Homo sapiens: one gene and its partners. The protein of the gene in region 3 interacts with the protein of the main gene of each other region in a pairwise test. Each region holds a gene or a part of one and is shown on either strand. Other genes may lie near its edges.

Region 1 (3,500 bases), on a different chromosome or scaffold from region 3:
ATACTTGGCATTGGGCCATTTGATGATTTATGAGTAAAAAACAAAACATAATCCCTCTCATTTCCACCAATGGAGTATGATCTCGTTAGGTGGGATTTTCCATTTATCTTGGCAGAAGTATCATTAATTTAGTCTGTTTATTCCAGTAATCTTAACTAGTTTACAAGTCTACAACATTACACCTTTGATTAGCTCTGTGAAAAAGATGTTTTGAAGTGAAAGGATCTCCCATTCTGTCTATATTTGGCAGCCTTAACTCTATAAAAATGTCCATTTTACCACTTCTTTTATATGCTCCTGCAGCTGCTTTCTCTCGTCTTCCCACTGTGAGATATTAAAAATCTGGTGGGAGTTTTCTCCAAGTTTATCTGGATGGAGAAAAAAACGCCAGAATAAGCTTGTCCAAATTAAAAATACCTTGAAACTGGAGAGCCTTTAGACTGAGTTCTCTGCAAATCATTCGGGGTGACTCTGACAATTGAAGATTATTATCTGTTGATCTTGAAGGTTATATGAGAATATGTTGTAAACTAGAAGCTGTAAGTTAGAAGCTAGAAGATTTACTGGAGTGATCTGTAACTGTTCAACAAACAACATTATATAATTAAAATATTTGAAGCTCAGCTTCATTCTAGTTTCTGCATTTTTATTTAACATAAAATGATTTTCTTTAACACTTGTGTGCTAACATGGAATTACTTTGCAGAATGAGCCTCTTTTTTTCCTTCTTTGGCCAGATGAAGTTCAAACAGAATTATAGACTACCCTGACATTGCATTATGGAAGATGCAAATGTAAGAGTGTGACATCTTTGTGTGATTCCATGACTATTCTTCAGAATGGAATTTGGAAATTCAAGTCCTGAGTGATATTTAAGGATTTAATATACCTTATGTTTTTCTAAAAGGAAACCTAATTATTATTGCAAATCTTCATGACACATATATGAGTCATCATAAAATTTGTGTTGGATATACTGATCGGTGATATAAGTAAGGTAGGGGTAGCCACAAATAACATCAGTGATAGACATGCACATTTTATTGTCAATCATGTACAATTTCCACATGACAATATGTCTAAAGACTAGTTCTGATTGTAAAGTAAGTTTTCATTTAGGAGAAAATTATTTCTCAAAAACAATTCTGTTACAGGCCAGGTGCCATGGCTCAAGCCCGTAATCTCAGCACTTTGGGAGGCCGAGGCTGGTGGATCACGAGGTCAGGAGTTCAAGACCAGCCTGGCCAAGATGGTGAAACCCCGTCCCTACTAAAAATACAAAAAATTAGCCGGGCATGGTAGCAGGTGCCTGTAATCCCAGCTACCAGAGAGACTGAGGAAGAGAATTGCTTGAACCCAGGAGGCGGAGGTTGCAGTGAGCCGAGACTGCACCACTGCACTCCAGCCTTGGTGACAGAGCGAGACTCTGTCTCAAAAAACAAACACACAAACAAAAGCAATCTTATTATATAATTTAATATTTGTTTTCCCTGTTTGCATGATATCTTTCTTTTGATGTAGATAGATATACATATAGTTAGAAGTATGGAGATGTGTATATATTTATATGCATACACATACATATATATCTGTGTATATGTGTGTGTATGTGTTTGCATATGTGTATATTTACACACACACACATAAAATGAGCCTATGAGTCCTGTCTCTGCTTTTGAATCACACACCCATATAAAATGAGCCTATAAGTCCTGTCTTTGCATTTGAATTTCAAAAGACCTTGACAATGTTAAGGAAACTATTTTATATTCAAATAATTCTATTAAAGCTAAGGAAAATATTGAACAATATGAGGTTAGATGTAATATTCCTTGGTGTATATGTTTATTTTACTGAATCTCAGGTTATTTTAACATATGAAAAAAATAAGTCTTAAAGAATGAATATGAAAAGACAACATATCTATAATTAGATATTTTACATGTGGAAATCCTAGGGAAGGATGTTGTTTAAGATTATATAGGGTCAAGATATAGATTACATGGCTAAACATAGCATTTATGAGATTAATATAAAATCTAAGTAATGGAATAGCCATGCTATGGTCTAAATATTTATGTCTCCTCCAAATTCTTATGTTAAAATCCTAACCCTCAAGGTGACGGCATTAGGAGATGGGGCCCTTGGAATGAGATTAGGTCGTAAGAACAGATCTAGCATTACTCAGATTAGTGCCCTTATTAAAGAGGTCCCAGAGAGCTACCTAGCCTCTTCAGCCATCATATCAAGGTAGAATGGAAAAATGGAAGTCTATGAAGAAGTGTGTGCTCACCAGACACCGAATCTGCTGATGCCTTGATCTTGGACTTCCCATCCTCCAGAACTGTGAGAAATAAATGTGTGTTGTTTATAAGCCACCCAGTCTATGGTATTTCATTATAGCAGCCCCAATAGACTACAAGCTGCATTGCAAATTACAGAAGATGGATTTTAAAGTGTTCTGTTTGTAATTCTGTTAATAACTTTAAAACCCCAACCTCCAGAAAATAAACTGAAAATATTTCACTGGGATGAGAGCCCTGGCATTTTGAAAGAATATGCCATCTGACCTTCAAGAATAGCAAAGTTGACAACTGACATCATAGTATATTTTTTCTGATAAATTCAGCACAGTAAAATTCAGCCCAGAAAATACAATATAACTTAAAATAGACACATAATTTAAGTATGTGATTTTTTTTTATATACAGAGTCTCACTTTGTCACCCAGGCAGGAGTGCAGTGGTGCAAACTCAACTCACTGCAACTTCTGCCTCCCAGGCTTAAATGTTTCTCCTGCCTCAGCCTCCCATGTACCTAGGATTATAGGTGCCTGCCACCACGCCTGGCTCATTTTTGTATTTGTAGTAGAGACGGGGTTTCACCATGTTGGCCAGGCTGGTCTTGAACCCCTGACCTCAAGTGACCTGCCTGCCTTGGCTTCCCAAAGTGCTGGGACAAGTACAGGCTTGAGCTACCACTCCCAGCTTGATTGTTAATTTAAGATATTTTGTGCACAGATTCTTAATTTAAGAAACTTAAGATAATATGTGTGCATAGAAATGTTGGAATGAAATGGTGCAACCAGAAACATTATCCAATACAATTACATCATTCCTCTCCTGTGACATTCTACACTCATAACAATTGTGAATATTTGTTCAATTTTTACCTCTTCTATGAATTCTAACAGGTATTTCTTTAGCTTAAGATTTTACTTCCAGCACTTAGCTCAACAAATATTTGTGTTACAAAATGATTAATTCAACATGCTTTGCATAGCAAAGGTTTTTCCCACCTGGGTGATAATTCTGTTTTATAGTTTACACTAAAAATTATTTCATACCCATTATGATATACAAATCTACATAGAAGAAAGAGCAGGTTTTAATTTCCATTTTATGCCTTGGGGAGATTGTTACTTACTTAAGAACACACAATTCTAATCAGCAAACCTTGGATTTTTATTCAGATTTTTTTCATAACAATTAAATTCTTTT
Region 2 (3,500 bases), on a different chromosome or scaffold from region 3:
GGTACAACATGAGCGCAAGTGAGGTACATTGTGAAGATGGAAGAGGAGGATAATAACACCAAAGGTGGGCATTATGAGAAAGGCTTTTCTTTCTTTTCTTTTCTTTCTTTCTTTCTTTTTTTTTTTGAGACAGAATCTCTCGCTGTCATCAGGCTGAAGTGCAGTGGCATGATCTCAGCTCTGCAACCTCCGCCTCCTGGGTTCAAGTGATTCTCCTGTCTCAGCCTCCCAAGTAGCCTGACCAACATGATGAAACCTTGTCTCTACTAAAAATATAAAAATTAACCAGGCATACTGGCAGGCCCCTGTAGTCCCAGCTACTCGGGAGGCTGAGGCATGAGAATCACTTGAACCGGGAGGCTGAAGTTGCAGTGAGCCAAGATTGTGCCACTGCACTTCAGCGTGGGGGACAGAACAAGACTCCGTCTCAAAAGAAAAAAAAAAGGTGTATTAAGGTGTGTGGGCAGCGAACCATGCAGGTTATTTTCTTTCTTTTTTATTTTTAAGAGACAGGATCTTGCTATGTCACCCAGGCTGGAGTGCAGTGGCCTGATCTAGCTCACTGCAGCCTCGAACTCCCAGGCTCAAGCAATCCTCCTGTTTTAGCCTCTCCAGTAGTGGGGACTACAGGCGCACAACCAACATGCTTGGCTGCTTTTTTGTAGAGATGAGGTCTCACTTTATTGCCCAGGCTGATCTTGAGCTCCTGGCCTCAAACAGTCCTCCCACCTTGGCCTCCCAAAGGCTGGGCCTACAGGTGTGAGCCACTGCCCTGGCCTCCACTCAGGTTCTTAAGCAAATAAGTGACATGAGAGAACATGTTCAGTAGACTTGGTATTGAGAGAGTTCCAATTTCATATCAGTCATTATTATGGTGATTTTCCCAGTATGAAGATTTCCCTGATCTGCTGAAGGAAAACCTGTGACCTCAAGTATCCATAGAAGGTCTCATTTTAGACAGCATTTCTTTCAGGAAGTCTTTTTTTGATTCCCCAAGACTGTTAGGTCTCTTTCCTTTGAGGTTCTCTAGCGTCATATACTTTTTCATATTATGGCATGTTATAGGTCATATTGCAATTGTCTGTTTTCCAGCCTCTGTTCTCTAGACTCTTAAGTTCCATGAGGTACCATATCTTGTTTACATTGTATTCTTGGGCTGGCACAGTCTTTTGTAAGCAGTTGGCACTTGAAATGTTTTAAAATGAATGAACTTTTTTTTTTTTTTTTTTTGAGATGGTGTCTTGCTCTGTTGCCAGGCTGGAGCGCAGCGGCGTGATCTCGGCTTACTGCAATCTCCGTCTGCCAGGTTCAAGCAATTCCCCTGCCTCAGTCTCCCGAGTAGCTAGGACTACAGGTGTGCACCACCATGCCCAGTTAATTTTTTGTATTTTAGTAGAGACGGGGTTTCACCATGTTGGCCAGGATGGTCTTGATCTCCTGACCTTGTGATCCGCCCACCTCGGCCTTCCAAAGTACTGGGATTACAGGTGTGAGCCACTGTACCTGGCCCTTTTTTTTTTTTAAATGAGACAGTGTCTCACTCTGTCACCCAGGCTGGAGTGTAGTGGAGCAATCATAGCACACTGCAGTCTCAACCTTTTGGGCTCAAGTGATTCTCCCACCTCAGCCTCCCAAGTAGCAGGGAGTATCATGGCCAGCTAATTTTTTATTTTTCATAGAGGTGGGGTCTCACTGTGTTGTCCAGTCTGATCTCAAGCGATCCTCCTGCCTTGGTCTCCCAAAGTGGTGGGATTACAGGAATAAGCTACCATGCCCAGCCTAAATGAACATTTTTGAATCTAATTCTAATACCACTGCAAGAGGATGGAGTGGAGGGAGGGAGGAAAAATCAGATCATTTTAGAGACTACAAAAGAATCTAGACTAAGGCAAGGAGAGTTGAGGATTAAGATTCTTCGGGTTTTACTAAAATTTTTGTTGCTGTAGTTACAATCTCTTTAATTCTGTTATTCTGAAGATCACAACACATAGGTGTTTAGAATGAAAAGGACTGAGAATCCTCTCATGGAACAAAGTGGACTCATTTCACTTGGCATTGCTTTCTCCCTCTCCCTTAGGGAGCCCAGATTCTGGGTCTCTCACCCTAGAGGGTCTTTGTACCTAGAAGTTAGGGTGAGCCCTGCCTTGCCATTGATTACGTTTACTTATTTCCACCAGCCTGATGACCGTGGTACAATCAATGACATCTCTGTGCTGAGAGTGACTCGCCGTGGGGAACAGGCTGATCATTTCACCCAGACACCCCTGGATCCAGGAAGCCAGGTTCTGGTCCGGGTAGATTGGGAGCGGAGGTTTGACCACATGCAGCAGCATTCAGGTAAAGGCTGGGATGGGGGACATAACACCGGAGCAGTTGCCATGTATGGGGATGCTGTGATGACTGAGACGTAGTTTGGGTTCTCTAGGAGTTAACCTTTTGGAAAAGACAGACTATTCAGAATCAGCTGTAATTCAGGAAGGATATCCTAAATGTTATAACAGCAACATGAACAACTGAAGTAAAAAAAAGTATTAGAATAACTGCTGGATTTAGGTATTATCAACTTCCCACTCGATATCTCCATCTGGATGTCTCACAGCCTTTTCAAACTCAAAATGTCCAAAATGAAACAAAAAGCCTTCCCCTCCCTCCTGGTCTTTCATTAGCATCCTGTGTGTTCATCGCAGGGCATCAGCATGCACCTAGTCACTCAAGTTCTGGAAGTCATTCCAGATACCTCTTCAGGCATAGACAGCCAGCCAATCACTGAGTCCTGTTGGTTTCTTTTCTTTTTTTTTTTTTTTTTTGACACAGAGTTTCGCTCTGTCACCCAGGCTGGAGTGCAATGGTGCGATCTCGGCTCACTGCAACCTCTGCCTCTCGGGTTCAAGCGATTCTCCTGCCTCAGCCTCCCGAGTAGCTGGGATTATAGGCCCCCACCACCATGCCCAGCTAATTTTGTATTTTTAATAGAGACGGTGTTTCACCATATTGGTCAGGCTGGTCTTGAACTCCTGACCTCAGATGATCCGCCTGCCTTGACCCCGCAAAGTACAGGCATGAGCCACACCCCCCCAGCATGTTGGTTTGTTTTCTAAATGTCTGTCCACTTCTTTCCACAGTCACTGTCATCCTAGTCCCAGCTCCTAGCTGTCTTCCCCCTGGACCTCTCTAACAGTTTCCTAATTGATTGCCCCACATTCAGTCTGGCTCCTCTGTAGCCCATTCTCCACATAGCACCAGAACAGTCTTTTTTTTTTTGAGTTGGAGTCTCGCTCTGTCGCCCAGGCTGGAGTGCAATGGCATGATCTCGGCTCACTGCAACCTCACCTCCCGGGCTCAAGTGATCCTCTTGCCTTGGCCTCCCGAGTAGCTGGGATAACAGGTGCGTGCCACCATGCCTGGCTAATTTTTGTATTTTTAGTAGAGACGGTGTTTCACCATGTTGGCCAGGCTGGTCTCGAACTCCAGACCTCGTGATCCGCCCGCCTCGGCTTCTC
Region 3 (3,121 bases):
GAGCAGGGGCGACTTTATTTATGCCAGCTAGAAGGCATGATATCATATGGCCTGGTTTCTGCCTGTCTACAGAAGTTGCCTGATAATTCCGATTGAGGTCAGTTCTGGGGACAGCTAGGGTCCCTACTGGGTTATGAGCAGCATCTTGTTGGTGGAGGGTGTTCTCATGGACCTGGGCACCCGTAAATATGTGTTCCCTGTCCTCCAGGGTGAGGGTAGAGGAGAGGATGACATATATGTCATGCCAGGTAAGGTCATAAGATTTAGGGAAGTACAGACATTCCTTGAGGAAGGAGGTAGGATCCATTGAAAAGGAGCAAAGTCTCTTTTCAGTATGGGAGAAGTCAGCTAGGGAACTTGAATTCAGATTATGCCTTCAGTCCTTGCAACCTCCTGCAAGGGAAAGACTTTGGAAGGCCTTTGGGCATGTGTCTGGTTTTCGGCAAAAGAGCGTTGGGCGTGAGACCTGGTTTGAGGTGGAGAAGGAAGGGGGATGGAGGGTGACAGTAAGGGGGTGGAGGAGCCGGATCCGAAGGAGAAGGTGGAGGGAATGGGAGAGGGCAGGAGCCAGACGAAGGGGTTTGTTGGCCAGGTTGAAATTCAGAGGAGGAAGGCTTGTCCCGAGGAGGAGGCATTTTGGGGGGTTTCTCCTTGAGGAGGAAGATTTGAAAAGGTGAACAAGATTGGCAGGAGAGTGAGTGAGGCATGAGCGGAGATAAGCAAAGCACTTCAGATCATTTACCATTGTGTTGGAGAAAGATTTTTAGATGATGTTGAATTTGAAAGTTGAATGTTTTGTTTTTTAGAAGAGGGGAGTGAATACTCTGGATGGGAGTGAATACTCTGGGGAAAGTGAGTACCCCAGAAGGGAGTGAATACCCCAGAGGGGAGTGAGTTCTCCAGAGGGAAGTGAATACCCCAGAGGAAAGTGAGTACTGGATTCCACCTGGGAGAAGGGACCTGGAGAGTTGGGACAGCCCCATAGCTATTCATGCTCCCCAGAGGACGGAGCGGCCAGAATGGCAAGTGTTCTGAGGCTGTCCCCTGAGAAGGGAGGCTGCAGTCACCTGGTGACTGGGGAGACCTCTCACCCAGCACTGGAATTTTTTTGGAGAACAAGCAGAAATAGAAAGGAATCCAGAAAGGAAGAATAGGGAGACTCACCCACGAATTGAAGCCCAGTGTTGGATGTGATGTCCAGCAATGGGGGTGATCCTGGTTGCAGCTGCTTGGGAAGGGGAAGGAAGGAAAAATAAGATGGAGAGTTTGATCAATATCTGGAGGTTAGTCCAGGGCTGGAGAAGATGAGAGAATAGGGGAAACAGGACTGGGAACAGACAGTCCACTCAGGATCTGGAAGTAGGCCCCGGTCTAGTTTGTGCTGCTTGCTGCTTTCTGCTTTCCAGGTTGCAAGAGAAAACTTACCCATTAGAACCCAATCACCGTCCTGGGTTTTGGCACCAAAGTGTTAGGTTTTGAAGGGAAGATGAGGGTGAAAGAAAGACAGACAGAGAGGGTGCATCTCAAACAACAACACAGGAATATTGCAGACACCTGTGGAAGTGGGGGACCAGCTTAATGCCAGAGCCCACTGCCGCTTATAGCCTGGGGTACTTACAGGTATGGGTGGGAGGGAGCTGGGCAGTATGGCTTGCTGCCCAGGAGGATATTGATAAGATGTTCTTATGATCAGGTGGTTTGGCCCTTTTTCCAGTGGAATATCATTGTGGTGTTCCTTTGCAGCTGCCTGGAAAGGGGAATGAAGGAAAAATAAGATGGAGAGTTTAATCAATATCTGGAGGTTAGCCCAGGGCTGGAGAAGATGAAAGAATAAGGGGAACAGGACTTATGATAGGGATGTTTCTTTAGTTGAGCCTTTGTCCACCTTGTGGTCAGGTGGTTAGGCAGGATGTTGCTCATGGCCTGAACCCCCATGGAATGTTTCACTTTGACCAAGGTCTGCAACATAGCAAAAACTTACAAAATCATGCAGTTTGGACTAACAGGTGACTCTACCCATGCTCCTCTTCTTCTTCTGCATAGATACCTACCCTATGATTTCACCTTGTTCTTCTCTGGCACACACCCCTTCCTCCACCTGCATTCCTTCTCATAAAGCCCCCCTTGCTATCTAGTCTCTATCCTATTCACCCAAAATAATGTCTTTCTGGCCTCTCCCTATTTTCTTACCAGATGCAAGAGGTACCAAACAGAGTCTTAGCCCCCGAACAGAGTTTGAAGAACACAAAAACATCAGAATATCCAATAATATTTGTGTATTACCTCAGGAAGGGTAAGAAAATAAATTCAAATCAACTGGAGAATGAACAGTCCCAAGAGAACTCCATCAATCCAATCCAAAAGGAGGAGGACGAAGGCGTAGACTTATCTGAAGGATCTTCAAATGAGGATGAAGACCTAGGCCCATGTGAAGGACCTTCAAAGGAGGACAAAGATCTAGACTCATCTGAAGGATCCTCACAGGAGGATGAAGACCTAGGCTTATCTGAAGGATCTTCACAGGACAGTGGGGAGGATTAGTCACACATGGAGAAACCAAATTGGACAAATCATCACCACTGATGGCGATGATTACAATAAAATCAAGTTTAAGGAGCTGATGACTGTGTTTATCTCTGCCTGTTGTCTGGTGTGGGGTGGGGAAGGGAAGGGAAGAGGTAGGCATTTGAGAAGGGAGGGATATGAGGTCCTGTAGGTTGGGAGACGGACCCACAGGTTGACAGTTAGCCAGACATTGCAAATAAGGACTGGCGGAGGACTGATTCCTCAGACAAATTTTCTTCTTAAAATTTTGTCTTACAGGAGAGGAAGAAAAGGACATGGTGTTTCTTGGAGCATGTGATTGTGTAGAAGGGTGTACAAAAAGATCTGTATTCGCTGGGCATGGTGGCTCATGCCTCTAATCCCAGCACTTTGGGAGGCTGAGACTGGCAGTCACCTGAGGTCAGGAGTTTGAGACCAGCATGGGCCAACATGGTGAACCCCTGTCTCTACTAAAAAATATATAAAAATTAGCCAGGCATGGTGTCAGGCACCTGTAATCCCAGCTACTTGAAGGCCAAGGCAGGAGAATCGCTTGAACCCAGGAGGTGGAAGTTGC
Region 4 (3,500 bases), on a different chromosome or scaffold from region 3:
TCATGTTTATGCTGTCAGGGTGAATTTAAAAAAAAAGCTCTCTTCCCACTATCTTGGAGCCTGTAGAGGCCTGCTGAGAACAGGACTTCCAAAAGGCAAATATGGGCGGGGTGTAGTGGCTCATGCCTGTAATCCCAGTGCTTTGGGAGGCTGAGGCAGGAGGATTATTTGAGGCTAGGAGTTCAAGACCAATGTGGGCAACACAGCAAGACATTGTCTCTACAAAAAAAAAAAAATTAGCCAGGTGTAGTGGCACATGCCTGCAATCCTAGCTACACAAGAGGCTGAGGTGGGAGCACTGCCTGACCCCAGGAATTTGAAACTGCAGTAAGCTTTGATCATACCACTGAATTCCAGCCTGGGTGATAAAGAGACTCTGTCTCAAAAATAATAATAAGATAAATACAATACATTTGGAAGGCTGTAGTCCAAGGCCATTTTTTGCTAGCTGTAAGTGGGGCCTCCAGAACCAAAGCGAGGACACAGCTCTTATTAAAATTGAGGTATTGGCCAAGTGCGGTGGCTCACGACTGTAATCCCAGCACTTTGGGAGGCCGAGGACAGTGGATCACGAGGTCAGGAGATTGAGACCATCCTGGCTAACATGGTGAAAACCCATCTCTACTAAAAATACAAAAAATTAGCCGGGCGTGGTGGTGGGCACCTGTAGTCCCAGCTACTTGGGAGGCTGAGGCAGGAGAATGGCATGAACCTGGGAGGTGGAGCTTGCAATGAGCCAAGATCGCGCCACTGCACTCCAGCCTGGGCGACAGAGCGAGACTCCGTCCCAAAAAAAAAAAAAAAAAAAAAAAAAAATTGAAGGTATTTATGCTCGAAATGAAACTAATTCTATTTAGGCAAGAGATGTACTTACATGTATAAAGCAAAGAACAACACACTGACTGCTGGCAGCAAACTGAAGAAAACCAGCATAATCTGGGGAAAGGTAAACTCAGGCCCATGGAAACAGTGGCATGGTTTGTGCTAAATTCCCAAGCAATCTTGCTAAAGCTATTGAACACAGAATCTGTGTGACGCTGTGCCCCTCAAGGACTTAAGCTAATGAAAAGTAAATAAATAAAAGTAGATTTATAAGAAAAAAAGAGTACAAATCTAAACATACCACTTCCTTGACTAAAACCCTTCCATAGTTTCCTACAGCTCTTAGAGTCCACCTTGCATACAAGGCTGGGTTGTTATAAACTCCCACAGCCTAGGTACCACCTTTTCCTAGCACTCACACCTCTGGGCTCAACCTACTTCAGTACTCATCACTATCTGTTTAATGTCCGTTGCCTACACAAGGCTTTGGGCTCTAGCCTGGTTTCTGCGTCACAGTGGTTTCTCCAGCAACTCACACTGTGGGCTCTCCACACATCCTGTGAGTGACTCCCTGGGTCCCTCATGTGCAAGGTGGGAAGCACTGAAGCTTCCTGCTGGCAGGATATCTTCTGTACCCACTGTGGTGTGCAGCCTGCTCTAGCAGTGGACCCCAACACTTGTGAAGCCTGCAGGAAGCCCACGGCCTCTAAACTCAGTGCAGTCGTGAAGACTCTCTTTGACATCCATTCTCAAAATTCTCCTGGACTTGGAATCTGGACTGCCTACTGGATTCTCACGACTTACCAACCGATATCTTTGACTGGTGCTACCCAAACTGTTTTCATGTCAGGGGACCTAGAGAGACAGATATTTGTACATTGCATTGCAGATGCTGCTGCTTAAAGTCAGAAGTTCACATTGCAGATGTCACTGCTTCAAGCCAGAAGCGACCAACTGGGGCTTTGACAGCCCTGAGGGGCGAGCGGATCAATATCTTGGCAAAATTATAGACCATCCAGGAGTTCGAGACCAGCCTGACTAACATGGAGAAGCCCCGTCTCTACTAAAAATACAAAATTAGCTGGGCATGGTGGCACATGCCTGTAATCCCAGCTACTTGGGAGGCTGAGGCAGGAGAATTGCTTGAACCTGGGAGGCAGAGGTTGCGGTGAGCCGAGATCGTGTCATTGCACTCCAGCCTGGGCAACAACAGCGAAACTCCGTCTCAAAAAAAAAGAAAAAAACAAAACAAAAACTGGCTGGGCGTGGTGGCTCACACCTGTAATCCCAGCACTTTGAGAAGTTGAGGCGGGCAGATCACAAGGTCAGGAGATCCAGACCATCCTGACTAACAGGGTGAAACCCTGTCTCTACTAAAAATACAAAAAATTAGCCGGGCGTGGAGGGCGCCTGTAGTTCCAGCTACTCGGGAGGCTAAGGCAGAAGAATGGCATAAACCTGGGAGGCGGAGCTTGCAGTGAGCCAAGACTGCACCACTGCACTCCAGCCTGGGCGACAGAGTGAGACTCCGTCTCAAAAACAAACAAACGAAAAACCCAAAAAAACCTATAGACCAACTGCGACACGCTGATTGGAATGCTCTACCCCAGGCATGGCATCTCAACTAGAATTATTCATTCATTCTGTCCATAAACATTTACTAAATGGGCTAAGGTGCAAGGGCAGCAATACTATTATATAGTGAACACTACTATAGAGTTAACCACGTGCTAGGAATGTCACATACATTAACTCATTTAGTTCTAACAATCCTACAATCAAATGCTATGATTATCCTCATTTAAAAGTGAGGGAACTGGAGGCCCAAGACCAAGTTAAGTAACTTGCTCAAGGTTACACAGCTAACTAGTAAAGGAGGATTTCACCCTAGGCCATTTAATCCAGAGTGTGACCTTAATTACTATGCTGCGAAGCACAGAGGTGAAGCTGGGGGTTTATGAAACTTGAAGCTACTCCAAAATACTTTTTTGGTGTGTGAGCCTTTGCATTTTCCAGGAGAGAGGGAAATCCAAGGCTGTCATCAGGGTCTGATAGGGATTAATGGTGAAGAACCACTGGTCAAGGTGGGGATTCTGACATCTGACATCTCTGGTCTATTAGCATCCTTGCCCAGAGCCCTGATAACCTCCACGTGGTCCCTGTCTCACAAGAGCTCTGCTCCTGGCCTCTCTTGGTCTGCTCTGACCTTCAAGCTTCACTCTCTTCATCAGGTAGATTCTTTGGGTAACCCGCTTTAGTGTAACTGCACTGTGTCAGAAGACACATAAGAGAAACCAGGTCTAAAAACAAAGCAGGCTGGGCACGGTGGCTCATGCCTGTAATCCCAGCACTTTGGGAGGCCGAAGTGGGCGGATCACTTGAGATCAGGAGTTCGAGACCAGCCTGACCAACATGGTGAAACCCCGCCTCTGCTAAAAAAAAAAAAAAATACAAAAATTAGCCAGGTGTGGTAGCACATGCCTAGCTACTTGGGAGGCTGAGGCAGGAGAATTGCTTGGACCCAGGAGGCGGAGGTTGCAGTGAGCCAAAATTGCATCACTGCACTCTAGCCTGGGCAACAACAGCAAAACTCTTGTCTCAAAAAAAAAAAAAAAAAAAAACCCATAAATAAATAAATAAAAATAAAAACAAAGCAGACATAGGTTGAAAAGGGATTG
Region 5 (3,500 bases), on a different chromosome or scaffold from region 3:
TTCATTTTCATAGCAGAATAATATTCCATTGTATGTATACCACATTATATTTATGCTGTCATCAGCTGATGACATTTGGGTTATTTGCACTTTTGGCTATTATAAATAATGCTGTTAAAAATGCCAATGAGCATTTGCATTGTTAGCAAATAATATGTAAGTTTATATACTTTTTTAATAAATGCATCTTTAATTCTCTTGGAATATAGCTAAGCATGCAACTGCTGGGTCATATGGTAACTCTAATACCATCCCCTTGATGATTACAGGATTCAACATATGAATGGAGGGACACAGTCACAAACATTCAGACCATATCATAGACCACTATCATATATGATTTACAAATACTTTTCTTATTCTGTAGATTGTCTTTTCATTTTTTCTCACAGTGCATTTTGCAATATGAGGTTTTTAATTCTGACAAATTTGAATCTATATTTCTTCTTGGTTGCTTATGCTTTAGATATAACATCTAAGAAACTACTGCCCAACTCAAGGTTATGAAGACTTACCCTTATGTTTTCTTCAAAAAATGTTATGTCTTTAATTCCTGCATTTATATCTTTGATCTATTTTATGTTAATTTTGTACACGGTGTGTGGTATAGATCCATATTCATTATTATCCATGTGGAAACCCAGTTATTTCAGCACCATTTTTTGAAAATAACATTTTTGAATTGTCTTCGCATCGTTATTGAAAAGTGATCATAACTGTATGCACTTATTTCTGCAATCTCAATTCTATTTCACTGATCTATATGTCTATCCTTATACCAGTACCACACATTCTTGAGTACTGTACATTTGTATTAAGTTTTAAAATCAGTTAATGTGAATCCTCCCACTTTGTTCTTTTTCGAAATTGTTTTGGCTATTCTAAATCCCTATCAATTCAGTATCAGTTTTAGAATCAGTATATCCATTTCTGTAAAAAAATAAAAAGTATCCTTAAATCTGAAGTGAGTCTCTTATAAACTGGGTATAGCTGGCTCTTGGTTTTATTTTTTTAATCCATTCATCCCCTCTATGTCTTTTGATTGGAGAGTTTAGTACATTTAAAGTTATTACTGATAGGGAAGGACTTACAATGACATTTTGTTAATGATTTTCTATCTTGAAACTTTTTTGTCCTTCCTTTCCTCTCTTGCCATCATGCTTTTTGTTTCACTGTTTTTTTTTTTAATAGATATGCTTTGATTCCTTATTTGTGTGTGTGTATTTTCTATAGGTATTTTCTTTGTGGTTACCATGGAGTTTACATAAAACATCTTCTAATAAACCTATTTTAAGCTGATAATTTCAACTGCATACAATACTGCTTCTTCTCATCCATCCCCATACTGCATTACTGATGCTACAAATTTCATCTTTTATGTTGTGCATCTATTAATATTTTTATAGTTACAGGCACTTAAACTTTTGTCTTAGACTTATATATCAGAAATAAGTGATTTACTCACCACCATTACAATAATATGCAGGTCTCTATTTGTCCATAGCTTTATCATTTAATTTTATACTTTCATGTTGAACATACTTTTGTTTCCATTTAACAGACTCCCATTGGCGTTTAAGTCAGATATAGTGGTGATGAACTCTCTCAGATTTTGAGAATCTTATTTCTCTTTTACTTTTAAAGAAAAGTTTTGCCACATACAGTACTTTGCTGGCAGTTTTTCTTCCAGCAGTTTGACTATATCATCCCACTTCTTTCTGACCTGCAAGGTTTCTGCTAAGAAATCCACTTAGAGTCCCACAGAATCTCCTTTGTATATGACAAGTTGTTCTTATCCTGCTGCTTTCAAAATTCTTTGACAATTTGATTACAGTGTGTTTCCATGTAGATGTCTTCGGATTGTTCTACTCTGGAGTCCATTTGGCTTCTTGAATCTGGATGTCCACTGCCTTCCTTCAGTTTGGGAAGTTTTGGCCAGTATTTCTTCAAATAAGCTTTTTGCTCCTTTCTCTTTCCAACATATGGAACTTCCATACAATCTACATTGATAAAATTGATGCTGTCCCATTAGTACTCTAGGCTGTCTTCATTCTTTTTTTATTTTTTTTCTTTTTGCTTCTCTGACTGGATAATTTCAAATGACCTGGCTTCAAGTTCACTAATTCTTCTCCTTGAAAAACACTGCTGCTAAACTCCTCTAGTAAATCTTTCAATTTGGTCAAAGAAGCATATTGCATCTGTTACAATGTTTGTTTGGTTCCTTTTTACGTTTTCAATCTCTATGTTGATACCATTTTGTTCATGCAGCATTTTCCTTGGGTCACTGAACATGTTTATGGTGGTTAGTCTGAATTCCTTCTGAGATAATGAAGATATCTGTGTTTCCTTAAAGTAGGTTCCTGGATATTTTGACTCTTTGATTGTGCCATGTTTCCCTATTTCTTTGTGTGTCTTTTAACATCATGTTGGGATCCAAGCATTTGAAAAAATATCACCCCTCCCAGTCTTTGTGGTCTGGCTCTGTACAGAGAAAGATCCTCACTGATCGGCCTGACTAGAGATTCTGCATGCCTTTTGAACCTTTCCTGAGGATGCTTCTTCTCGACCAGTGTGTATAAATTCTCAAGATGAACTTGTTCGTTTCCTTTTTCAGGATCTCATAATCTTTTGCTCCCTGTGCTATCTGTCTGTGGTACTTCAGGTTCTCTGGAGCTGCTGCAAGCCACCCAGCTCTCTTGTTTTCAGAGGCCTCCAACCTGGTGCCCTTTCCCATCAGTGGGCTTTTAGAGTATGTCCACTCCTGCCTGTGCTCCAAGTCAGGTGAAACAGAAGCCAGTCCCTTGGGGGTAGCTCTCTGAAGTGCTGGAATGTTGGACACATACTCCACTATTCTCTCTCCAACACCTTTCATGCCACACGTAGGGACAAGCTGCTGAGCTGTATCATCCTCTGTCTGCCCTACCATAGGTCCTCTAGAGCAGCAACAAGTCTTCTGTTCTCAGTGGCTCCTGGGCACCTGGAATACACCAGCCCCTGTCAGCTTTCCAAGACAAGCAAGACAGAAGCCAGTCCCTCAGCCCACTGAAAAGGTGAAACACTGGACACACATTCCAACTCTTTTGTCTCCCCAAGGAGAAGCCAAGAGTTGAGGATTTTCTCCTGCTGGTTTCATGCTGAGGGAGGGGGAGGGACCATGGTGAGTGCCTGCTAATCTAAACTGTCAACTTTGTTTTCAATGACCCCGCAACCTGGTGCCCTTTCCTGTCAGAACTTATATTCAAGCAAAATAAAAACCAGACCCTTGGGCAGACCTCTGAAAAATCTGAATGTCACACAGATGTTTCAGTCTTCTCTTTCCCCGCCCAGGGAAAAACCAGGAGCCTGGAGTTTCCTCTTGCTCATGCCATGCTGAGCCAGGGGAATGAACTATGGTGAGCAAGTAGGATGAATTTTCCTACCATCTTCACTGCAGCTGGTTTACTGCTCACCTAGAATGCAGGAGCCTCTTAACTAGTTTCCGGATTTCTCACAAAGAGGTC
Region 6 (4,225 bases), on a different chromosome or scaffold from region 3:
TCTGGCATAATTTATTCTGATGCTGAATCTCACATCAGAGTTGAAAATATCCTCTTTTCAATTTATTTACCAAGAACGTGGCATTTAAGATTAATAATACTTCTCTGTAATATAAGTCAGATAGAATGAATAGAAATGGGTGGTAAACATGCTTTCTGGAAACTTCAGAGGTTCATTTGCCCAGTGGTTTCAAACAACCTAAGCAACTATTTGAATACGTGCTACATTTTAATTAATAAATATGCAGGACATTAAATCATTGCCAATAGTACAACGTGTGCTCAATAAATGTTGAATAAATGAAGAAATGAAGGAATCTCCATTATTCAGAATTCATAACACTGTTAAAACATTTTGTTCCTGCCTGTCAGTATGCATCCATAAAAATTAATTATTGTCACTATCCTTTTATATAAAAGGAAACTAACATAGAAAAGTGATTAAAGGACTTACTCAAAATTATAATTCTGCTAACAACTGCCAGAATTATGACCGTTGGAATCCTTATCCACTATTATGCTTAAACCACTTTTCTATTCATTTCTGCTAGAAAAAAATTATAAATGTATATTTCTTATCTATAGACATACTTTTTTCCCCACTCCACATATTCAATCTGGACAACAGAGATAATGAGTCTTTTGCAAGATAAAGCAATTATACTAAAACTATTTACCTGCTTTTCTGATGAGATTCATTCACCCTATTCCTCTTCTTGAAAAAATCACGTGGCTGATCATCATCTCGGGTTTGATGGACTGTCTAAAAACAGGGATGCAGTAATAAACACTGTGAACATGTACACAAGAAACAAGCAAGCAAACAAACAAAAATCCCAGAATAAATCTAAGTCAGATTTTTCTTCTAAGTTTACATTACCTTTCCTGTAGTGCTCAAAATATTCTTGCTCAATCTGCTGGAAGATGATGACAGCTGGGGAGGTGACTTCTTTATTCCTCTTATATTTGGAAAGGTCTCCTCACCACCGGAACTAGAAGCAACAGAATACTGTCAGTAACTATTGATTGCAAATGGTCCTACCACCAGTATCGGGTTGGTTTTTCACTTGTTTTTTAATACTTGTATAATATTGAAATATTAAGGCTGTGATCATATAGTGGTTTGCACTCTAGGTTATGAAATACTGGGGAAGGGAGACATTGTCTTATGCTTACAGCTTTGTCTTTTCTGCTTATTACAGTAGATATTAGAGACAGGATCACAGGATCACACTACTATAAATACTGTGAATGGATTCCATCTCTCTCTCTCTCTCCCTGTTCACACACAGGTATAATCTTCCTTGGAAATAATATGTTGAAGAAATCTGGAAGGCTAAATAAGGTCAGGTCTTATTACAGCGTTCAATCATTGCATTGCCCAATCATTCATTCATGCAACAAATAATTACAGGAGTACCCAGAAAAATGGCAATGATTATGCACGTCCCTGTTCAGAAGGAGCTTAAACTCTAGGAGGAACGTTCCCATTCAATTTTTCGGCCTTCTCTATCACATCAATCCATTATAAGACTTTCCATATATTCATACATATTACATATTATATATCATCTCTTTATGAAGCATTGTTGACCTATACCACATATTGCTGTTATTCCCCTCTCATTTTGAGTGGCCTATTAAAAGTGCACTGAATGGAAATTGGATACTTCTCTTTCCCGTATCACCTGTCTCTGTAAAATAAAAGAGATGATTATAGAAGATTTTTATTTTCTTCCTGAAACTTTCCTGTATTTTTCCCACATTAATCATGTAAGCCTTTTTAGTTAGCTTACATCCAATGATAAATAAAATCATTCTCTCACATTTCATGAATTATACCACAATCAACAGCCTTGACTCATTTTAGATGCAACGAATGTTCTTGAATCAACCCCCTTTCATTAGTCTGGTTTTCTTTCTGCTTTGTCCCTCTGGACAATAAAAAGGAACCTTCTTAATGGAATGGCTGGCCCCAAACTGCTCTCTGGAAAGTGCACTTGCATCTTTTCTACTTCATTTCACCTGGTATGCTTTACACCAAAGGCTGTGGGGTTTTGTGCTCAAAGCTACCGGGTGAGAGACACGAATGCCTGCAGGGTTCTAAATAGGCAGAAAACAAGCTCCAGGCCTTGCTGGTGTTTCTGGCTTGCTTGGAAACAAAGCTAAAAGTCGGAGATTCTGGCTACAAATATGCTCCCCAAGCGCCAGAGGCTGATTAAGGGCAGCTGCAGAAGTCATCAGCGGGTAATAACTCTTGTTCCCCTGTCTTCCTCTCTGGCGCGGAGTCCAGGAAGACAACAGCAGCACCTCCCCTCCCCACCCTCAAGGGAATCTGCTGGCCATTCGGTGCGGCAAAGCATTCTGGGTGATGTGGACATGACGCTGCTCCTCTACGCAGTGAGGCTCCCTCGGTCTGACCAAGGGTCCAGGTTGCAGTGAACCTGTCCAAAGTGTGGGCTGGCCTCGATGTTTAAAATTAGCCTGAGACCAGCTCCTGGCAAGGCCGGTTTTTGCACCACCGCTCCCCCCATCCACAACCCAGAAATCTAAGGACACGCAGCATGCATTTTCCTTGTCCTCCGTTTGTGCAGACAAAGTCTATGATCGATAGGCGCGCAATCCAGGCAGACGTAAACAGAAATTGATCAGACCTGTTTCGCGACTGCAGCGGACACGTGACGAGGCTGCCAGCCTTCCTTCCTCTCCGGCGCCCGCGCGGGGACGCCCGGCTGCGGCGCGCTGCGGCAGGGGAGCTGGAGGCGGAGGCGCGCAGCTCCGCTGAGCTCCCTGGCTGAGCTGAGGCCGGCGGGGGCCCGCCTGCAGGCGGCGTCACGAGGGGCGGGGCGGAGGCTCGCTAGGAAGTTGCACCCGGTCAAGTTGCAGCCTTGTAAGTAACGCCGCGGACCGGGAAAGTGGGAGGGGCCGCTCCCGGAACGCAGCCTTCTTGTAAGAACCTCCAAGGAAGCAAGAAGAAAAAAGAGGCGCTACCCTGCGCTCCCGGGAGGCCTCTGAAAGCTTCCACTAGAGAAAAACTCCCCACTCTTACAATTTCTTTAACCGCAAGAAGCGGAGGACCTGGACAAGGACTCGAGGAGCAAGGTGGCGAACCAAGGGTAGGGCGCACCGGGCCCGAGAGGTCCCCCGCAGGTTGCAGATACGGTGGACTCTCTGCGGCTTCTGAGCACGGAGGGAGCTGTCGCGGGGTCGGGAGGTCGTCTCTCATCCCTGCCTCATCTTCCGACGGCCGGCGGGGCCATGTCCAGAGGCCCGAGCTCCGCGGTCCTGCCTAGCGCCCTGGGATCCCGGAAGCTCGGCCCCCGGAGCCTCAGCTGCCTGTCGGACCTGGACGGCGGCGTGGCCCTGGAGCCGCGGGCCTGTAGGCCCCCTGGGAGCCCGGGCCGCGCGCCGCCGCCAACGCCAGCGCCGTCGGGCTGCGACCCCCGCCTGCGGCCCATCATCCTGCGGCGGGCGCGCTCACTGCCCAGCTCCCCCGAGCGCCGCCAGAAGGCCGCGGGCGCGCCGGGCGCTGCGTGTCGGCCGGGCTGCAGCCAGAAGCTCCGCGTGCGCTTCGCCGACGCCCTGGGCTTGGAGCTGGCACAGGTCAAGGTGTTCAACGCGGGAGACGACCCGTCCGTGCCGCTGCACGTGCTGTCGCGGCTCGCAATCAACTCGGACCTGTGCTGCAGCAGCCAGGACCTGGAGTTCACCCTGCATTGCCTGGTGCCCGATTTCCCGCCGCCCGTCGAGGCCGCCGACTTTGGCGAGCGCCTGCAGCGGCAGCTCGTGTGCCTGGAGCGTGTCACTTGCTCGGACCTTGGCATCAGCGGTACGGTGCGCGTGTGCAACGTGGCCTTCGAGAAGCAGGTGGCTGTGCGCTACACTTTCTCGGGCTGGCGCAGTACCCACGAGGCGGTGGCGCGGTGGCGCGGGCCCGCAGGCCCCGAGGGCACGGAGGACGTTTTCACCTTCGGCTTTCCAGTACCGCCCTTCCTGCTGGAGCTCGGCTCCCGCGTGCACTTCGCGGTGCGCTACCAAGTGGCGGGTGCCGAGTACTGGGACAACAACGACCACCGAGACTACAGCCTCACATGTCGCAACCACGCGCTGCACATGCCTCGCGGGGAGTGCGAAGAGAGCTGGATCCACTTCATCTGAGCCGCGCGGGGACCGGCCACCTGGAGCCTCCACACCTAAGCTGCGCCTCCTGTCATTTCCCTGCTGGG
Region 7 (3,500 bases), on a different chromosome or scaffold from region 3:
ATAATCCCAGCACTTTGAAAGGCTGAGGCGGGTGGATCACCTGAAGTCAGGAGTTTGAGAACAGCCCGGACAACATGACAAAACCCTGTCTCTACTAAAAATATAAGAAAATCAGCCGGGTATGGTGGCGGGTGCCTATAATCCCAGCTACTCCCAGCTGAGGCAGGAGAATCACTTGAACCCGGAGGGTGGAGGCAGCAGTGAGCCAAGATGGTGCCACTGCACTCCAGCCTGAGCTACAGAGTAAAACTCTATCTCAAAAAAAAAAAAAAAACACTTTCCTTTTTCATCCCCTCACTTAAGAGTATTACACATAGTTGGCCAGGGCGCAGTGGCTCACTCCTGTAATCCCAGCACTTTGGGAGGCCAAGGCGGGTGGATCACGAGGTCAGGAGATTGAGAGCATCCTGGCTAACACGGTGAAACCCCGTCTCTACTAAAAAATACAAAAAATTAACCAGGCGGTGGCATGCACCTGTAGTCCCAGCTACTCCGGAGGCTGAGGCAGGAGAATGGCGTGAACCCGGGAGGCAGAGCTTGCAGTGAGCCGAGATCGCGCCACTGCACTCCAGCCTGGGTGACACAGAGAGACTCTGTGTCAAAAAAACACACACACACACACAAAAAAAAACCAGAGTATTACTCTATTGTAATATTTAAAAGTATTACAATAATATCTTTACTGCTCTCTGCACCATATTCTCATCGTTTCAGTCTAAAAACAGTCAGCTATTTTATTGTGTTTTGTAGACCATTAAAATTTTCCTTGCAGGCTGGGCATGATGGCTCACACCTGTAACTGCAGCACTTGGGGAGGCCAAGGAGGGAAGACGGCTTGAGGCCAGGAGTTCAAGACCAGCCTGGGCAACACAGTGAAACCCTGTCTCTACGGAAAATAAAAAAAAGGAAAAAATTATGCCGGGAGTGGTGGCTCACATCTGTAATCCCAGCACTTTGGGAGGCTGAGGTGGGTGGATCACCTGAGGTCAGGAGTTCGAGACCACCCTGGCCAACATGGTGAAACCCAGTCACTACTAAAAATACAAAAATTAGCCAGGCGTGGTGGCAGACGCCTGTAATCCCAGCTACTAGGGAGGCTGAAGCAGGAGAATCGCTTGAATCCGGGAGACGTAGGTTGCAGTGAGCCGAGATCACATCATTGCACTCCAGCCTGGGCAACAAGAGCAAGACTCCATCTCAAAAAAAAAGAAAAGAAAAGAAAAAAATTAGGCTGCGCATGGTGGCTCACGTCTGTAATCCCAGCACTCTGGGAGGCTGAGATGGGTGGATCACCTAAGGTCAGGAGTTCAAGACCAGCCTGGCCAACATGGTGAAACCCTGTCTCTACTAAAAATACAAAAATTAGCCAGATGTGGTGGCAGGTGCCTGTAATCCCAGATACTCAGGATGCTGAGGAAGGAGAATCACTTGAGCCTGGGAGCTGGAGGTTGCAGTGAGCCGAGATCTAGCCACTGCACTCCAGCCTGGGTGAACTCCCTCTCAAAAAAAAAAAAAATTAGCCAGACATGGTAGCTTGGACCTGTAATACCAAGCCACTTGGGAGGCTGAGGAGAAGGGAGGATCACTTGGGCCTGGGAGGTAGAGGCTGCAGTGAGCTGTGATTGTGCCACTGTACTCCTGCCTGGGAAACAGAGAGAAATCCTCCCAAAAGCAAAAAAAGAAAACAAACAAACAAACAAAAAACAAAAAACTTTTCCTTGCATACAATATTGTAATATAAATTTAAAACTTATAATAATAAGTCCTTTGGGAGGCCAAGACGGGCAGATTATGAGGTCAGGTGAAACCCCGTCTCTACCAAAAATACAAAAAAAAAAAAAAAAATTAGCCAGGCGTGGTGGCGGGCGCCTATAGTCCCAGCTACTAGGGAGGCTGAGGCAGGAGAATGGTGTGAACCTGGGAGGCAGAGCTTGCAGAGAGCCGAGATCACGCCACTGCACTCCAGCCTGGGCGACAGAGTGAGACTCCATTTCAGAAAAAATAAATAAATAAATAAATAAAAGTACCAGCCAGGCACGGTGGCTTGCACCTGTAATCCCAGCACTCTGGGAGCCAAGGCAGGCGGATCACAAGGTCAGGAGTTCAAGACCAGCCTGGCCAACATGGTGAAACCCCGTCTCTACTAAAAATAAAAAAATTAGCTGGGCATGGTGGCGTGCTTCTGTAATCCCAGCTACTTGGGAGGCTGAGGCAGGGGAATCACTTGAACCCGGGAGGCGGAGGTTGCAGTGAGCTGAGATCGCACCACTGCACTCCAGCCTGGGTGACAGAGTAAGACTCCGTCTCAAAACAAATAAAATAAATAAAAAAAATAGTAAGTCCCAATAGCTTAACAAATCAAACATTTTCAGTTTTCCTGGTTTTATTCTCTAGCCCTTGCTATCCACATACATACAAAATTTTTACAGCATTGTAATTATCATATACATAACATTTTGTATTCAGCTTTTTTTATTCCTATAAATTTTCCTAAGTTGTCAAAAATTCTTCACAATGATCACTTTTAATTCACATTTAACAAATTAATTACCCTTATAGGCCATTTAGCATTATTATTATTTTTTTTTTGAGACAGAGTCTCCCTCTGTCGCCCAGGCTGGAATACAGTGACGCGATCTCGTCTCACTGCAACCTCTGCCTCCTGGGTTCAAGCAATTCCCCTGCCTCAGCCTCCTGAGTAGCTGGGATTACAGGTGCCCGCCACCATGCCCAGCTAATTTTTTGTATTTTTTTAGTAGAGACGGGATTTCACCATGTTGGTCGGGCTCATCTTGAACTCCTGACCTCGTGATCCACCCACCTCGGCCTCCCAAAGTGCTGGGATTACAGGCGTGAGCATTATTCTTATTATGTAATTAACACACACCATTGATTGATTGATTGATTGATTGAGACAGGGTCTTGTTCTGTCCCCCAGGCTGGAGTGCAGTGGTGCAATCTCAGCTCACTGCAACCTCCACCTCCCAGGTTCAAGAGATTCTCCTGCCTCAGCCTCCCGAGTAGCTGGGATTAAAGGCATGGGCCACCCCACCTGGCTAATTTTTGTATTTTTAGTAGAGACAGGGTTTCACCATGTTGGCCAGGCTGGTCTCAAATTCCTGACCTCAGGAGATCCACCTGCCTCAGCCTCCCAAAGTACTGGGATTATAGGCGTGAGCCACCACGCCTGGCCTACAAACGTTTTTCTAAAAATTAGCTGGGCATTGTGGCGTGCACCTGTAGTCCTAGCTACTCTGGAGTCTGAGGTGGGAGGATCACTTGTGCCAGGGAGGTTGAGGCTGCAGTGAGCTGAGATCATGCCACTGCACTCCAGTCTGGGTGAGAGTGAGACCCTGTCTCTTAAAAAAAATGGATTTTTAATATCTATACACAAATACACACACACACACACACACACACACACAAACACACACACACGACATCCCTAAATGAAACATGTAGGCATTTAAAAGAATGAGATCTATCTATCTGAAACAGTG

What was found.
Region 1: the proteins of SPANXN3 (region 3) and MEOX2 interact in a two-hybrid assay, tested with the Homo sapiens proteins (one large-scale study listed by BioGRID).
Region 2: the proteins of SPANXN3 (region 3) and PTGES3L-AARSD1 interact in binary tests that used the Homo sapiens proteins (3 or more experiments, as listed by UniProt).
Region 4: the proteins of SPANXN3 (region 3) and ZNF76 interact in binary tests that used the Homo sapiens proteins (3 or more experiments, as listed by UniProt).
Region 5: the proteins of SPANXN3 (region 3) and SDCBP interact in binary tests that used the Homo sapiens proteins (3 or more experiments, as listed by UniProt).
Region 6: the proteins of SPANXN3 (region 3) and FAM217B interact in binary tests that used the Homo sapiens proteins (3 or more experiments, as listed by UniProt).
Region 7: the proteins of SPANXN3 (region 3) and ZNF143 interact in binary tests that used the Homo sapiens proteins (3 or more experiments, as listed by UniProt).

The regions. Positions count from the first base shown.
Region 1 is NC_000007.14:15,620,684-15,624,183, forward strand, and holds part of MEOX2 (homeobox protein MOX-2), read right to left. Parts: intron 1-3,500. UniProt on the Homo sapiens protein: Mesodermal transcription factor that plays a key role in somitogenesis and somitogenesis and limb muscle differentiation. Required during limb development for normal appendicular muscle formation and for the normal regulation of myogenic genes.
Region 2 is NC_000017.11:42,960,029-42,963,528, reverse strand, and holds part of PTGES3L-AARSD1 (PTGES3L-AARSD1 protein), read left to right. Parts: intron 1-2,177; coding exon 2,178-2,337; intron 2,338-3,500. Other genes in the region: alanyl-tRNA editing protein Aarsd1, read left to right, coding at 2,178-2,337. UniProt on the Homo sapiens protein: Functions in trans to edit the amino acid moiety from incorrectly charged tRNA(Ala).
Region 3 is NC_000023.11:143,508,235-143,511,355, reverse strand, and holds the end of SPANXN3 (sperm protein associated with the nucleus on the X chromosome N3), read left to right. Parts: intron 1-2,193; coding exon 2,194-2,541; 3' UTR 2,542-2,621; downstream 2,622-3,121.
Region 4 is NC_000006.12:35,276,735-35,280,234, reverse strand, and holds part of ZNF76 (zinc finger protein 76), read right to left. Parts: intron 1-3,500. UniProt on the Homo sapiens protein: May be involved in transcriptional regulation.
Region 5 is NC_000008.11:58,559,761-58,563,260, reverse strand, and holds part of SDCBP (syntenin-1), read right to left. Parts: intron 2,978-3,500; exon of another isoform or gene 1,514-2,977; coding exon of another isoform or gene 1,466-1,513; intron 1-1,465. UniProt on the Homo sapiens protein: Multifunctional adapter protein involved in diverse array of functions including trafficking of transmembrane proteins, neuro and immunomodulation, exosome biogenesis, and tumorigenesis.
Region 6 is NC_000020.11:59,938,964-59,943,188, reverse strand, and holds the start of FAM217B (protein FAM217B), read right to left. Parts: upstream 2,801-4,225; 5' UTR 2,654-2,800; intron 992-2,653; 5' UTR 880-991; intron 763-879; 5' UTR 677-762; intron 1-676. Other genes in the region: PPP1R3D (protein phosphatase 1 regulatory subunit 3D), read left to right, coding at 3,258-4,157.
Region 7 is NC_000011.10:9,464,012-9,467,511, reverse strand, and holds part of ZNF143 (zinc finger protein 143), read right to left. Parts: intron 1-3,500. UniProt on the Homo sapiens protein: Transcriptional activator. Activates the gene for selenocysteine tRNA (tRNAsec). Binds to the SPH motif of small nuclear RNA (snRNA) gene promoters. Participates in efficient U6 RNA polymerase III transcription via its interaction with CHD8.